2 separate regions of the Homo sapiens genome follow, and region 2 is linked to region 1. Evidence: fine-mapped QTL for protein levels in blood plasma. Region 1 holds a variant in brackets. A gene starts in the other region. All regions are shown on their forward strands.

The links. A credible set is the group of variants that fine-mapping cannot tell apart. PIP is the chance, under the fine-mapping model, that this variant and not a neighbour inherited with it causes the effect. Protein levels are from antibody-based Olink assays in UK Biobank. Linkage for the fine-mapping came from a reference panel and not from the study's own genotypes, which makes the PIPs less certain.
Region 2: FAP starts here. The variant in region 1 is the best candidate, but not a certain one, in a credible set for the plasma level of the FAP protein (UK Biobank, PIP 0.78).

Annotation. Positions count from the first base shown.
Region 1 is chr15:50,703,600-50,711,940 of GRCh38, forward strand. It overlaps SPPL2A (signal peptide peptidase like 2A), which reads right to left. Exons shown (of 15, transcript NM_032802.4): 15 at 1-4,275. The coding sequence ends at 4,201. Among named protein-coding and RNA genes, the nearest start is that of TRPM7, 21 kb to the left of the region's middle. RefSeq lists a silencer at 7,080-7,280. The variant T/C (reference allele first, on the strand shown) is at 4,866.
Region 2 is chr2:162,240,115-162,248,411 of GRCh38, forward strand. It overlaps FAP (fibroblast activation protein alpha), which reads right to left and starts at 3,331. Exons shown (of 26, transcript NM_004460.5): 1 at 3,208-3,331; 2 at 2,794-2,878. The coding sequence starts at 3,213. LOC105373724 (a long non-coding RNA gene) reads left to right here and starts at 6,003. Exons shown (of 4, transcript XR_923544.3): 1 at 6,003-6,057; 2 at 8,204-8,297.

The DNA of each region.
Region 1 (8,341 bases):
ATCCACCCGCCTTGGCCTCCCAAAGTGCTGGGATTACAGGTGTGAGCCACCGCACCCGGCCTTAGTTCAAATATTTTTTATTCAAATGTAAAATATGTCTATAACTCAAAGGATAAATGCTTGAGGGAATGGATACCCCATTCTCCATGATCCGCTTATTTCACATTGCATACCTGTATCAAAACATCTCATGCACTCCATAAATATATACACCTACATGTACCCACAATTTTTAAAAATGTAAAAATAGTAATTTTTGCTTATACTAAAGCATAAATTGAAAGAGCAAAGAAAACTGGAAAGCTCATTTGTATTTATTATAAATGTATCAATTCACTAAAATCTCTATGGACAAGTAAAATATAAGAATGCCAATAGCAGATGGGTTAAAATTCTCTTTAAAAGAGAAATAAATTGCAGATTCTACTAAGGAATTGCTAATCTAAAAAAAAATCTACAAGTGCCAGGCACGGTGGCTCATGCCTGTAATCCCAGCACTTTAGGAGGCTGAGGCGGGCGGATCACCTCAGGTTGGGAGTTCGAGACCAGCCTGATCAACATGGAGAAACCCCGTCTCTACTAAAAATACTATATTAGCCGGGTGTGGTGGCACATGCCTATAATCCCAGCTACTCAGGAGGCTGAGTCAGGAGAATTGCTTGAACCCGGGAGTCGGAGATTGCAGTGAGCTGATATCATGCCATTGCACTCCAGCCTGGGCAAAAAGAGCGAAACTCTGTCTCAAAAAAAAAAAAAAAAAAAAATCTACAAGCTAGAAGAAAATATAATGTATTAGAATATCAAGGTCTTTCCCCACAAGCCTCACATTTATTTTTGCTAAACTAAACTGAGACAAAAGTAATCTACATTACAATTTGAGATAGTGATTTCTGTTGATAAGCCACAAAAATGTTCAAAGGGATTTTCTAACTTTTTTTTTTTTGCATCAAGAATTAATAAATACAGTGTATCATTATTTTAAAGACATGTTTAGGGAAAAAACCAGCTTCTCTTCCCCTTAAAGTTATTGGTGGTGGGAGGGCAAGAGAGGAAGAGATGGCAGCTTTTTAAGTGAAATTTTAATCTTATCTATCTTTTGTTCATTTTGAGTCCCCAAATAAAATATTTCTGTACTTTAATTTCTTAATCACTATTGTCAGCTTGGTTGCTACACATTTAATTACAATATAAAGTTGACATTGAGGATGAAGAAACTTAATTATACTTTTTCTTATTTCTATTTAACCAATAAGATTTTAATAGCAAATTAGAACAAGATTTTACCTCCTTAATAACTAATGGTTAGATAAAGTAGAATTTGTATCAAGTAACTCGGATTTCAGATTTCTGGATGTACCAGTTACTATGCTACTGAGGAGATACATCTAGTTGATGAAGTTAAAATATTAATTACTACTCCAGTTATATGAAACCAAATTATTTTGAGAAATTATCTTATTTTGCCAGGCGCGGTGGCTCATGCCTGCAATCCCAGCACTTGGGGAGTCTGAGGCGGGCAGATCATGAGGTCAGGAGCTCAAGACCAGCCTGACCAACAAGGTGAAACCCCGTCTCTACTAAAAATACAAAAATTAGCCAGGTGTGGTGGCACGCACCTGTAATCCCGTCTACTTGGGAGGCTGAGGCAGGAAAATTGCTTGAACCAGGAGGCAGAGGTTGTAGTGAGCCAAGATCTTGCTACTGCACTCCAGCCTGGGTGACAGAGGGAGACTCCATTTCCAAAAAAAAAAAAAAGAAATTAATTATCTCATTTCGATGTAGTAAAAAAAAAATTTTCTTTAACATTCTTCATAAAATGTGATTAAGGCTATTAAATATAAAGCTTGGATGAGGGTGCAGATAATTTTACAAAACAGCTGTATTTTGGCAAATATTTTATTATTATAAATGAAAATACAGAGTTTTAAAACGGCACTTAATCTGTTCTCTCTCTCAGAGTCTGCCAAATAAATCAGATTTCTTGGAAAATATTCAAACTTGATACAATGGAGGCAAAATTAACTCTTGTCAGGTAAGTCATTTGCCATAAACGAAAGGACCCATAACTGCATTAAGCAGAGAGGGACTGACTGTCAATGAAGCTTCTCTATTTGCAATTTATTCAGCAAAAGCGAACAATTTTTAAAAAGTCTCTAATGCAAAATTTAGTTCAAGTATCAAAGGTCTGATCAATTTTAAAAGGCATTAGTTTTATTTTTAATAAATTGAACTGGCCTTAGATGAAAGATATAGTTCTGTTCACATATTTTATACATTATTTACAGAGAAATGAAAAATCCTGCTGCCTTTGTTATCACTTGTCATTTGCGAAATTCTTACTAAAATAAAAGAAAATGGAAAGATAATTTGACCTCTGACTTCCAGGAGAATGTTCAGGCCACATCTAAAATTTACCAAAGAATGGGGAAAAAACTTTTTTCAAGTTGGAAGGTACCAGAGTGATTAGCTGGTCTAACCTACTCATTTTACAGATTAGAAAACTGAGATATGGCCGGGCGCGGTGGCTCACGCCTGTAATCCCAGCACTTTGGGAGGCCGAGGCGGGCGGATCACGAGGTCAGGAGATCGAGACCATCCCGGCTAAAACGGTGAAACCCCGTCTCTACTAAAACTACAAAAAATAGCCGGGCGTAGTGGCGGGCGCCTGTAGTCCTAGCTACTTGGGAGGCTGAGGCAGGAGAATGGCGTGAACCCGGGAGGCGGAGCTTGCAGTGAGCCGAGATCCCGCCACTGCACTCCAGCCTGGGCGACAGAGCGAGACTCCGTCTCAAAAAAAAAAAAAAAAAAAAAAAGAAAACTGAGATACAAGGTCTTGAGATGCGGCAAATTACTCAACTCTTCCTTGTATTGTAATTAAACTGAGACTAACACCAAGTCTCTTGCTGTTGTTGCCAATTCTTTTCTCTGAACCGCACTTTGTACATCCTCCACCAAGATTAAGAATCATTACCTATGGGAAAAGGGGTGGGCATCAGGAAGAAAAAAAGATAACGGGTGGGAGTGGGGGAATGTGGGATAATGTTAGGAATGCTGTATTCAACGATGAGCCATATGTATTAATACATAATTTCTTAAGAAAAATAATTTTTTTAAAAAATCAAACCTTAACATTAACAGAACCAAATTGCAAAGATCAGAAATACCAAAGTGAAACTGAATGTTAGTACTGAAATTTAAGCTACATTTAAAAAAAAAAGGCTGTCAAACCAATGAAAACTAGATTTCAGTGTCTGTCTCCTTTTAGTGACTAGTTCTATATATTATGTTTCTCTATATCTGGAAAAATGTTCTTAATATAATACACGTGCAGTCTGAAGTAATTTCAGTTCTCAAGTTTATGAAAGGATTGGGTTTAAAAAAATACTACAAAAATATGCACTTATATTTCCAAAATTATGTATTTCTAACCTCTGCAGTGATATAAGGTCCAAATTTTCACCGTTGAACCGCCTTCTTGCATGGTGTTAAACAGTTATTTCTACAGAGCAGATATAATTTGCATAAATCTTTTTTTTTGGGATGGAGTCTCACTCTGTCGCCCAGGCTGGAGTGCAGTGGCGTGATCTTGGCTCACTGCAAGCTCCACTTCCCGGGTTCACGCCATTCTCCTGTCTCAGCCTTCCCAGTAGCTGGGACTACAGGCACCCTCCACCACGCCCAGCTAATTTTTGGTATTTTTAGTAGAGAGGGGTTTCACCGTGTTAGCCAGGATGGTCTCGATCTCCTGACCTCGTGATCCGCCCGCCTTGGCCTCCCAAAGTGTTGGGATTACAGGCGTGAGCCACCGCGCCTGGCCAATTTGCATAATTCTTTACAGTAAAACCCATTCAGAAATAGTAACTACTTGTATCTACCATCAGAGCTGAAAGAAACAGATTTCGTTAAAAAAAAGTATAGGGGTGGGTCAAGGCATTTTTTTTTAGAAAAATATACTGTATATAGTACATCTCGGAAACTACACAGACCATATGTTTTATTTAATGTGAAGGCACAACTTTAACATTAAAAGCAAAGCGTTTTAGTTATTTATGATGTAACTGTCAGTACCAGCTCATAAAAATATATTTTTGCAAGCATATCATTGAAGACTCTTTCAGATTGTCAATTCAAAAGTCAATTTAAAAAGTCGAAGTCTATTTGTAGAAAATCAATGACACATTATAGCAGTTCCACATAATATTATTGCTGGACAATCTGTTCACCAGATATCACAGGGTTTTCTTCATTTGTTGCACAATCCAAATGGTCCATCATCTAGGCATAAATAAAAGACGTTAGGAAATGCAAAATTTCAACTTGCCCCCAATATTCACTACATTAGCAAAAGGATTCTTTTTCTAAAAAACACAGATTGCTCTATGAAACTGAGCACTCCTTCTGGAGCACTGTTCTGGTTCAACATCCACACTTCTAAGGAGATAGTCAGGGTGACACTGAACCTCTCAGGAAGCCTAATCACATGACTCAAAGCCAATTTGTGTTCTCTGGATCTTCCGTTATCTCCATTTCCCAATATGAATACTGCCCTTCATGGCAGTGAGAACTCCAGAACAAAAGGAAGATATTCCTGACACTTATTCCAGGACACTATTCCAGGCAGTGTCCAATCATACAAATGGGAAAACTAAAAATGGCCTCATGAGTCACTGTGAGAATACCTGCTGACTCTGGGACAGTGTGATATTATTGACACCTTGAAATAACCGTAAGATAATTTAAACTTTGGAAACATTATAATAATTTCTACAAAAAATGAACTTGAGGTCATATGATATCTGAAAACAAAACCAAGAATACATTTGCTAGGCCGGGCGCAGTGGCTCACACCTGTAATCCCAGCACCT[T/C]GGGAGGCTGAGATGGGCAGATCATGAGGTCAGGAGTTCGAGACCAGCCTGGCCAAGATGGTGAAACCCCGTCTCTAATAAAAATACAAAAATTAGCTGGGCGTAGTGGCGGGCGCCTGTAGTTCCAGCTACTCGGGAGGCTGAGGCAGGAGAATTGCTTGAACCCAGGAGGCGGAGGTTGCAGTGAGCCGAGATCACGCCACTGCACTCTAGCCTGGCAACAGAGTGAGACTCTGTCAAAAAAAAAAAAAAATACATTTGCTATAGACTATTTTAAAGAAATTATCAGCTGGGCACGGTGGCTCATGCCTGTAATCCCAGCACTTTGGGAGGCCGAAGTGGGTGGATCACGAGATCAGGAGATCCAGATGGTCCTGGCTAACACAGTGAAACCCCGTTTCTACAAAAAAATACAAAAAAAAATTAGCCAGGCGTGGTGGCAAGCGCCTGTAGTCCCAGCTAATTGGGAGGTTGAGGCAGGAGAATGGTATGAACCCAGAAGGCAGAGCTTGCAGTGAGCCGAGATCGTGCTACTGCGCTCCAGCCTGGGTGACAGAGCGAGACTCCGACCAAAAAAAAAAAAAGAAATTACCAGTTAAACTTTTCTCAAATGGTCACTTCAGCTCTGCCTATATTCTCATAAAAAATTGTCTTATATTTGGAAATGAAGGATGAAGAAACTGTTTAAATGCTTTCAGTGTTTCAGCAACTCAAATACAATTACTAAAAATAGAAAAAAGTATTTAATGCCTTTGTGAAGACTGTTAAAGACTTTTAGACTAGTGATTAAATTTCAGTATTGCGATGCACTTTTTTCCTTTCCTTCATCAAGAATTAGAAGAAGGAAAGATCAGCAAGATAAATGTTCCTATTTTTGAAAAGTGGTTCTGAAGGCTTTAGTGTTTTTTGGAAGAAGAACAAGAGGGTGGAATCATCTTGAAACAGGGTCTCTTGACTTGCCAGGCAGAAAGAATACAACGTGAGCTAAGGCTTTTGGCTGACAACTGTCTCAACTAATGGAGACAGCTTACAAAATCAAAACCTGGGCCGGGCGCGGTGGCTCACGCCTGTAATCTCAGCACTTTGGGAGGCCGATGCAGGTGGATCACGAGGTCAGGAGTTCGGGACCAGCCTGGCCAACATGGTGAAACCCTGTCTCTACTAAAAATACAAAAATTAGCCAAGCGTGGTGGTGCGCCTGTAATCCCAAACCTACTCGGGAGACTGAGGTGGGAGAATTGCTTGAACCTGAGAGGCAGAGGCTTTGCTGACCCAAGATCGCGCCACTGCACTTCAGCCTGGGCAATAGAGAGAGAGACCCTGTCTCAAAAAAATAAAAAAAATAAAAAAATAAAAAACCTGCTGATACTCTACAAGCCATTTCAAGACCCAAAACCATTTTGAGGTCTTCTAATTGCCAAAGATATCCCCTAGATTTAAGGTCACTAGTTTGTAGCAATTCTAAGGGGAAAAAAACAAAAGCCAAATCAAGACAGATAACATTAAGCAGTTCACTACATGAAACATAAGATGAAGATGTTGAACATTTAATTTTAGTCAATTTAAATGAAGAGGGGAAAGGAAAAGTATGTAAGATATATTTAGGCCCCTCTTCTTCTAGGAATTTAAAAGTTCTGGGTCTAAGAGATTAGGGCTGTGTAGAGAGAAAATTGAAGCAGCCTCAGCAGAATGGATGGTGGAGAAACCCTCTTTCTTCCCCACGATCTGCTTACCCTGGCAACTGTAATCTAATGAAATGATAGCCCACATACCCTAAATTATAACATGCTTCCCTGGTGCCTCGTTAGCACAGTAGGTAGTGAGTCAGTCCCATCTAACTTGCCTCTTCTTTCCTAATCCCCAGGTACCTCACTGGCACTATATAATCTAATCCCTGAACATAGAAATATATTAATTAAAAAAACCACTTTCAAAGTCAACTTATTGAGAAGTAAGCATCTCTATTCCCTATTTACTTTTCTTTACTGACTTTCCAATAAAAACAATACAGAAACATAAAGAACAAAGTTTTAAAAAATATGACAATAAATTAACATAAATAATACAATTAATTGACAAAATTGCCAAACATTTTCATCATATTTGGAAACAGGAAAGCTTGATTTGGAAAGATGGGCTCTGAAATCAGATCAGCTAACCTGGCATTTTCTGATAGCTCTGCTTGCTTATAATTGAACCAATCTCCAGAAATAGTCTAATAAAACACTCATTAATGCAGGGTAACTGGAGACTTGCTGATACTAAAGCAGAGTTGTTCTAACTTATCTCTGTATTCTGACTTGTCAGTTACAGCTTGTGACTTCTAAAAATAATGAGAAGTACTAGTGACATTTAACAGACACAACTCACTGTTTACTGGGTATCACAAACTGAAAACTTACTACCTGCCCAGAGAAAAATAGCCCATTGGATATTGCTGCACAAATTTAACTCCACTTATTTCATTACAGAAGCAAAAAATATCCCCTAAAATGATGACTCCTTTTCATTGTGCTATATGCCAAAGTAATTATGACTCTGCTTGATTTTTCTCTTCTGAGAAAAAAGTATCTTTATTTGCTTTATACTAATTAGAACTAAGACTTCACATAAAATCAAATAAGTGGGTCTGAGTACTGTAGCTCTTGAAGCATTCCACAAAAAATGTTCATAGGAAATACAGTGTAACTAGTTTTGGGCTGTAGAAAATAATTTACAATTAGTATTTCCAAATTAGTATCCTTTTTTTTTTTTTTTTTTGTGAGATGGAGTGTTGCTTTTGTTGCCCAGGCTGGAGTGCAATGGCGCGATCTCGGCTCACTGCAACCTCCGCCTCCCGGGTTCAAGCAATTCTCCCCCCTCAGCCTCCCTAGTAGCTGGGATTACAGGCACACGCCACCACGCCTGGATAATTTTTTGTATTTTTAGTAGAGATGGGATTTCACTATGTTGGCCAGGCTGGTCTCGAACTCCTGACCTCAGGCAATCCACCCGCCTCAGCCTCCCAAACTGCTGGGATTACAGGCGTGAGCCACCGCGCCCAGGCCAAATTAGTATTATTTTAGTGAAACCCTATAGAAACATTACTTCTTTTGATGAGAGAAACTCACAGTAAGGGCTGAAAGACTCGAAGTAAGATCCTGAAGTATTTCAATAAGGTCTCCAAGTTACAAGTGAGGTATAAGTTGCCCCCTAAAAACAGCATGGAAAGACTGCCAGGGGTACCTGGACATTTAAAGAGTCTCCAGTGAAAAGTCCTGCTTTTTACTACCAATAATCTTGCACTCAACTCTATTATCAGGCATTCGAATGAACCAAATGACTAATAGTATAAACAAATTTGCCTTAGCCTTAGATTGTAACTTTATATTACCTGTTTTGTCTTTGATTATTTCAAAACAGCAGCAAAAACTTGCAATATTTACAAAAAAAGATTGCACATAAAGACTGTAGAGATACATGTCTAGTTTAATGTT
Region 2 (8,297 bases), not on the chromosome of region 1:
GGTAGGAGAGAGGAAAGGAGTCAGTTGAAGGGGTGTAAGCTGAAGGCAAGGACAACCTGGGAGTAAGGGGTAGAAATTCATGTGTGCTTCACACTTTGGCAAAACTAAAAAGGGAATATTTTACAAGTTTCGAAAAAAGTTTTTCCTTATAGTTAATATTTTGTAAGTGAGCTAAATGGATTTTCTCATTTCACTACTACATTTCATATTTGTTCTTATAATCCAGTTTAATTATTCCTAAACCCTTTTAATCCTGAAGCTGGTTCTCCTGGGATGGAAGAGCCTTTCTCTTTTTTCTTTCCTTTAGACGTGATGTGAAATAACACAAATCCTTCTCTGGTATCTGTGGTGCTGACCATGCATCTTTGGGTGCAGAAAGCACTGGATTCTTACTCCCCAACTTGCAGAGGGAATTCTAGACTGCTGCACCTCCATATCCTCAGCAACTGGCATGATGATGAGCAGGGAGTTAGTAGAACTAATACACTAATATGTAAATGAATGAATGAATGTTTCCTGAGTGTGGCTTTAAGTTTCTCAGAAGAAGACAGTTCATACACTGGTGCATAAAATTCTGGGCTGAGGATATGAGGGCACCTAAGGCAAATGTGAAGTAATGGGATTTCTGATGAATGTGAGAAAGAGGCTAAGTAGGAGCTCGCTTAGCTTTGAATTCTCTGTTCTTTTTACCCCTTCCTCCTTCCCTTTCCTGCCTTGCCATCTCAGATCCTATTCTCATAGGCACTGGGCAGATGTGAGAGTGAGGACTGGACCTGGCACTCCAGACGGGAGATGATTGATTGACCAGTGAGATGTGAGAAGAAAGGAGGAAAATTAGGAGGCCACCACGCCTAACTTCAGGGCTGCCTGTGGCACTGACTTCCCCGGGTCCTGCTCAGGAAAGTAGGGTAATGACTAGTGCCATTCACAAGCTGTTTAGCTGACATTCTGAGAAGTTATTCAGCAAATTTAGAAGAGAAAGAGAATGATATAATGAACCAAAAAACAACAGTTCTCACCTTATTTATGATTTTTCTATTTCTGAATGAGTACTCAAATTTCACTGAGTACTTGAGTTTAATTTGATTATTTCACCCTATCAAGAAATCACTTTATTCTTAGAATTTTCCTGTTAGTTGAAAATAGAATTGTATTATAAATTACATAGGACTTTTATACTATATATAGTTTACGACGTATATTTATATGTAAGCTATACATAACTAAACTTGGAAAGAGGGTAGGGATTGAGATTATATGTGATCACACAAATATCTGTGTATGTGTATCTCTATACATCATTTGTAAATATGTAAATATAATGCATTTCTTATTAGAAATTATAGCTTGAATTCCATAGTGAAATTCATCCTTCCCTATGGACATGGAGGCAAGTGCCCTATAAAATTAACAAACTTTTGTTCCAAGAACATTTATTTCTGAGGGTGCAGAGTATCAATTTCAAGGTTGAGTTTCTTTAAAAATCAGGAGCTAATTTTTAATGAATTAACATTCAAAGGATCTATATGACCTAATCCACTACCTGACAATTGCTGGTATGAGGGAAATGTGGCCCCAAGACCACTGAGTTCAGAGATGAGTCTGAAAACAATTTTAACATGAAAATTTATGAAAGATATGTACACACACTACATACCTCTCAACAGCCTAAGAAGAATCTTGTGCTGGCAGAGAGCAGAAACAAAGACTGAAATTAACACTGAAGATATCAGCTGACTTCATCTTATGGGTTAACCTATTCTATTTTGTAATTCTGTGAAAATCTCATGATTATTTTTAATTTTCGAAAACATTTTTCTATGTTCTTTTTAATAGCAACAGTCCAGTCATTCAGGACTCATACATTCTTTAGCTGAAGTTATTTTATTGATCTTCATTTACTATCAGTTAACTTTTAACCAAGATATTTCCCACATTTGTTATCATAAACTTTTAGTATTTATTAGTACAAATTTTTCCCCTTTCCTAGACACAAAGACATAAGACCTGTTATTACTGGATTTTTTTTCCATTTCAGAAGCTTGAGTTTCTCTTCATAAATATTTTCATAAAAAGCTATTTCCCTAATATCACTAGATTATCTATCAACATAGTCCTACTTTATATTTAAACTAGCTCTGATATCAGCCCATAGTACCTTCCAATTTTTAGCAAAGTGAGATCAGTGTCAATCTAAGCCTTTTTTGTAAAAGGATCCAATTTATGACTGATCAAAATGCTTGCTTAACAATGTTTGGTTTTCTAATTTGATGTGCAGTGCTACTACATCTAAAACAACAACTTTGCTTTTTCTATACAGCTATTCCTGAGATCTGTATTCTCAACTTCCTCCCTAAATTTTTGGAAAGACTATTTAGTAATAAAAAAAGTCCATAGATTCTGTTTTAACTTTTCCATTCTTACTCATTTTTACTTTCCACGAGACAAACCTAATAATGAAAAGCAATGTTAGTTAAAAATGTTGTTTCTAAAGGCCTGTCAAAGCTTGTATTTAGCATATATTTTTGGGGGTTGTGGGGGTGATGCAGCATAGTTCTTAGGTTTTTCTATTGCTGAAATAACACTGTAAATCTCTTCCTACCCATGCCTTAAATTCCTCAGTATTTCTGGTCTTGCACAACAACATATCTGTGAGCTTATATGTCTTCTTAGAAATAACAGACTTACTTTGGAACATAAGCACTTAGGAAATGTTCAACCACTTGTGATCTTGCATTAGTACATTTTCCAAGCTATTCTAGGCAGATAGAGCAAATCAGAGAAAGTTCTTACCTCTTGAAGGGCGTAAGACAATGCACATCACCAATAAGGCAAGCACAGCAGAGGTGGCAACTCCAAATACGATTTTTACCCAAGTCTACATAAAATAAAGAGAATTAGGCATACACACAGTTCCTGCTAAATAGTAGAAATGGCAAGATTTTGTTTACACCTAAATCCTTTTTCTCTCGCCCCACAAAGCTTTTGATTGTTTTCCACTGATCCGGCTATAATTGCTGGAATTCTTCCAGCTCTGCAAGGACAAATGTTTCTACAGTATATTTAGAACAATTTTCCAATCCCAACCCATTGAGGAAGTAAATACTTATGTACAAATCTTCACCTTCTAAACAATAGAAAACTCTGATCACGTTCAATCCAGCCAACCCTAATTTTTTAAGAATACTTGAGGTTGCTTATACTAACCTTCATTTTTCCAGATGTTTTTGAAAGTTAGCTAATTCTGTCTTCAGAGCGTGGGTCACTGGATCTGTGAAAACCGTTGAAAAGGACCAAGTCTGTCTTTGTAGTTGGAAGCTGAAGCCAGGACAAGGTTTTTTTCTTTCCACGGACTTTTGAATACCGTGCCAAGTTTCAAAAGATTTCTGTAAAATTAGAAACAGATTTTGGGGGCGTTCTTGGCCCTCAAATGAACTGTGAGTGACTCAAGGGAAGTTTTATAGCCTTCTCATCCTTGTAACTACACCAACATCTGCTTACGTTGACATACAGAGGTTTTTATTTTTTCTTTTTTACCAGTTCAGGTTTATGTTGCATTTTCTTCTAGAATTCACTGAAGGATCACTTTAGCAAGTCATTGGGTTTTGCATAACATTTTTATTTGCCACTAAAAGATGAATTTAAAATAATGAAACTTGCAGGTCTGTACATTAAACATATATCTACTTTTTAACAGAGGAAGAACATTGAAGCCACATAAGATTTTGTGAGAAATGTGCCATATAACTGCACTTTTTTTTCCTCTGGAAGATTATGAGGTATTGCAGACAGAAATGTTTTTCTTTCAGCACAATTTCTTTGTCCATATAGCACCATATGCACTTTCAGTAAATACAGAAGTTTAAAAATTCAACTGTCTAAACCCACGGCTGCTTTACTTTAAAGAAATAAAATGCCATCTGGTGAAATTTAGTATGGGTTAGGTGTGTATGCACAGGCTAGAAAGATGGAAAGATCAGTAAGAATAATTTACCAGCAGACCTTTGGAAGAATGGAAATGGCTTTACAAGAGTGGTATTTTTGCTTTCCTCTCAGAATATCTTCTGAGAGAGGAGAACATCTAGTAATTATAAAGATTTAAAAATAAATAAAAAAGCATCTGAAAAGAAAAGTAAATCTTATGTATAATTTCATTTTGGCTAAATCTACATAATTCCAAAGAAATTGGTCATCTTGACAGATTAGTAAAATGGTTGACTGAATTAAAAAAAATACACATACAACAGTTTCTTGGAGTGTTCTGTCTGTTTTAATGCAATTCACTTGGATAGATTTTGTGGTTCCACGTAAACACAGTTGTTAAATCTACTGTGTCCTTAATTTTTCCACTAATGGTTTTCTTTTTTCGAAGTTTATAATGTTCCCAACCTGATTAAAACACTTCATGGCAACCTTTCTTGGATTGTACATGAAAGGTAATGGGGAAATGTTACCAAAACATGTTGCTGTTTGCCTTAGTCAACTTCTCTGGCTACCACGGGACACTTTCTCCAGCAAAGAGCAGGACAGTGGCTTGTGAACTTCCTTTCAGACATTCTCCAGACATCCCTCCCTGAATTCCAGCCTTATGAAAATTCTGTTGAGGAAAATGAGTCATTAGGCACTTACTGGCAGAGAACTGTATTCCTGGTGGCTGGGGCTGGGCCCTCTCCTTTGCTGTTGGTGGAGTCACCTCTTTACAAAATGAAGTAATCATTAAGAGTAATATCCAAGGTGTGCTATACACTTGTAGGTATCTCCAAGTGATTGTGAAATCCTCAGATCTCAGATAAAAGCCAGCAGCCAGGTCCTGAATGAACTGTTTCTGTGTAAGTCCTCTCAGATTGATTGTCTTCTCTGGAACACACCGTGTTCTCAGAAGTTCTGCCCTAGCCTGCCAAAGCCCCAGAGTACACAGGCACTTTTTAGTGGGTGATTTCCAAGACTTTACATTGTAGAGAGAAACTATAATAAATTATTAGGGTGTAATTAAAAGACCATGCTGAGAGCATGTTAGCTCTAGCAATTAAGAATGCACTGACATGTGACTGGTCTGAGCACCACTTAGGATTCTATGACTGTGTGTGGGTGTCCACAAGATACTCATTTAATAGGCTCTATGAAGAGGTTGGAGTGCTTTAAGATACACTTAAGTTGCCACTATTAGTAAGGGTGGGAAATGATGAGAGTGAAACAATGTCTGTTTAAGTTTTTTTGTTTTTTCCTTGGAAGGTTGGGTGAGTCAAGCTGTAACTTCTGGAAAATTCTTACTAGTTTGAACTGTTTTAAGAAAAATGAGACTGACTGCAGAAATAAAGATGTCGAGTTTTTCCATCTGAATTCATGGTTTAGGGAGGTATTGTTTTTATAAAGTCACACATGTTCATTCGTTTGAGATAATGTGAATGTATTCTAATTTTCATCCAGACAAGAACTCTCATAAAATTTGGATTTTTAAAATATTGTAATATCTTTATTAGCTTTTTTTAATTTTGGAATCAAAATGAAAATACTTTTGTCAACTTTTAAAAAACATTTACGAAACTGACTCTTATTCCTACTTTATACAATTAGTTAACACCCCATCAACATTTTTGTTGAGAAAACAAAAATGAATCAGACACAGTCTGTGCCCTTAAGGAACTTACATTCTAGTATAAGTATGGCAGGTATGTTCTTAATGTTCTTACATACTTGTTTCCTTTTGCTTCCTAAAGCTCTTGTTCAGAAATAGCCTGAAGCTGAGTTTGTGTTCTGTAGAAAGAGTGTTCTCACTGGTTGGTGATTTCTTCATGGACCTGGGAAGAGGACTGGAAAGGGCACATACCACATGCATGTCATCCTTAGTTCAACCTTTGTTAGTTCTAACCTTTGTTAGTACTGAGACTTTTCTCAGAAAGCAACTCTGGGTCTATTAAAATGCTGCAAAACCAGAAAGGATGATGATTTGTCATGTAAAAATGTAAGGGCAGCAATTAGGAGAGTAGAGGCTCATCAACTGAGTTCTTTCCAGAGAGGGACCTTGTAAGGCTGACTTTGGAATATGACTGCATTCTGGTAAGCCCACTGGATAAGTGAGCTATAACATAAATCCTTAGGTTATAAGGAGGAGAGCTTACTAGAACTATTTATTAGTAGCCAATGTTTACCTGCCAAAAATGATTTTAATTTATATGTTTTCCCAGAAAACACATCCAGCTATGTATTTCTAGAGTCTGAAGGTAAGACCATGCTGAGAGCATAAGGATGTTATCTTTTTATTTTATGGTGGGGAGATGAAAGAGAGATGTGTTTATTAACCAAAAGCCATGACAAATTATTTAAGGACAAGTTACAAGGGGAATAAGGATACAAGTGCAGTAAACATAAGCCTGATTTTATACTCTTTAAAGTAAAAATTTGCTTCTAGAGAGCCTAACAGCTCCTAACATCCTACCCATTTGATTCCTCAGATTCAATAAACATTTATTGTTTACTGTTATCTACAAAGTGATTTTAATGCATTATTTCATCTGATCCATACCAAAACTCATTTTGATGATTAGGAAACAGCCTAGAAAAACTGGATAACTTGCCCAAGATTTTAACAGGACCCAGTGTTACCACCTTACATTGCTTCTTTGTGATACTTCCTAAAGTTTTATTCCAAAGTGATAAATTTTTTTTAAAATTATAATTGACATTTCACTGATTTGCTGTTGGGGGACACTTAAGGTTGTGAGGGTAAAATAATTAAGGCTAAAATATTAATGATGTTCACATCCTCAAAGTACTTTGTTACACATATCTCAAAAGAACACAATTTCACTCTACAAGGACTGTGTTCAAAATATTAATTTGTTTACAGTTTTTTTTTAATCGGGGTCTATTAATCCGATGATTATTTATATAGTGCCTGGGTTAAAAGCTCTTCCTCCAGGGACTTGCTTAAATGAAAGGATTCAACAAAATACCCATCGTCAAAGAGATTTTTGAGTTCCAAGCTAGAAAGAGTCCTGAGGTCTTCAAAGCTCAAAATAACTATCACATAGTTATAGATCTGGAAGAAGTGGCATAATATAGCATCAGTGGGAAATGATATAGCTCAAACTATTTTTTGAATCTGATCTCTTTTCTAAAACCACAATTGTTACATAAGGAAGAATATAAAGCCACATGCCTCCTAGTTTGTAATTGGCATCTACTACCTTCATAAATGTTATAATTAGATGTCAGTGTTTCATTATCCTATCATAATTAGGGCAAGTGCTCCTTGGAGACCCAAAGGGTTAACTATCAAAATGGGGTTAGAAAAGAAACAGAACAGAGACACAACCCATTTCTTTGAGTGCTGAGGACACAAAGACTCAGAAGATAAATCAGTGCTTCATTGTCATTTAAATAGGGAAATACTACATCTTTTTAGAAGTGGTTAACCAACAAGAAGACTGTTTAAATAGTATAAATAGAATGTGTAAGCACCTATAGACTAACATAACTTGTTAACACATATTGTTTTTTCACTAGCATTTTTAGATTAGAGAATATTACTACTACTAGTTCATGTCTATTGAATACTCTTATTGATCATGACGTTTTTTTCTCAGCACTTGCACGTGCTATCTCCTTTTATCCCCAGAACATTCGTACTATTATTATCCTCATTTTACAGATGAGGACATGGATGCACACAAAATCTAAATAACTTCCCCAAAGTCCCATAACTTTTGAGTGGTAGGGATGGGATAAACCCAGATAGTCTTACATTATAACACAATTTAACCTATGTTTAGGGCTCTCAGAGGAGGGTATATATTGGCACAGTGATTGGCATGTGTGATCCAGCTGGAACTAGGAGGAGTTGAAGATGGAAGGAAAAAATACATGGGCTAAAAAACTGGACATTTTGATGAGTTCAAAGTATGAGTCCTAGTAGTAACTAGTAATAAGGTGGGAAATAAAAGAGGTTTTTACCAGATAGCAGCAGGTTGTATTTAAGATTTCAGTTCAAGTTACAACGAGGCCTAAGGTATGGTCACAGAAGTAAGTAGCTGAGATAGAAGAAAGAAGTGAAGGTCCTTAGAGATATAGTTGGCAAAGCAGTGAGAGGCTAAGATATCCTTTGGGATGTTCATCTGGGAACTTAATTCACCTCAAATTATGGCAATAATTAAGGGCAGCAGATAAATGCCTTGAGTTATATCCCCAATTCTTTATAAAACAGATGGAGAGATTTCCAGTTTAAGATGCCATACTGAACATATACACTGATCTCTTTGCCTTTGGAAACTCCATTAAGCTGATTGTAAAGGAGGAAA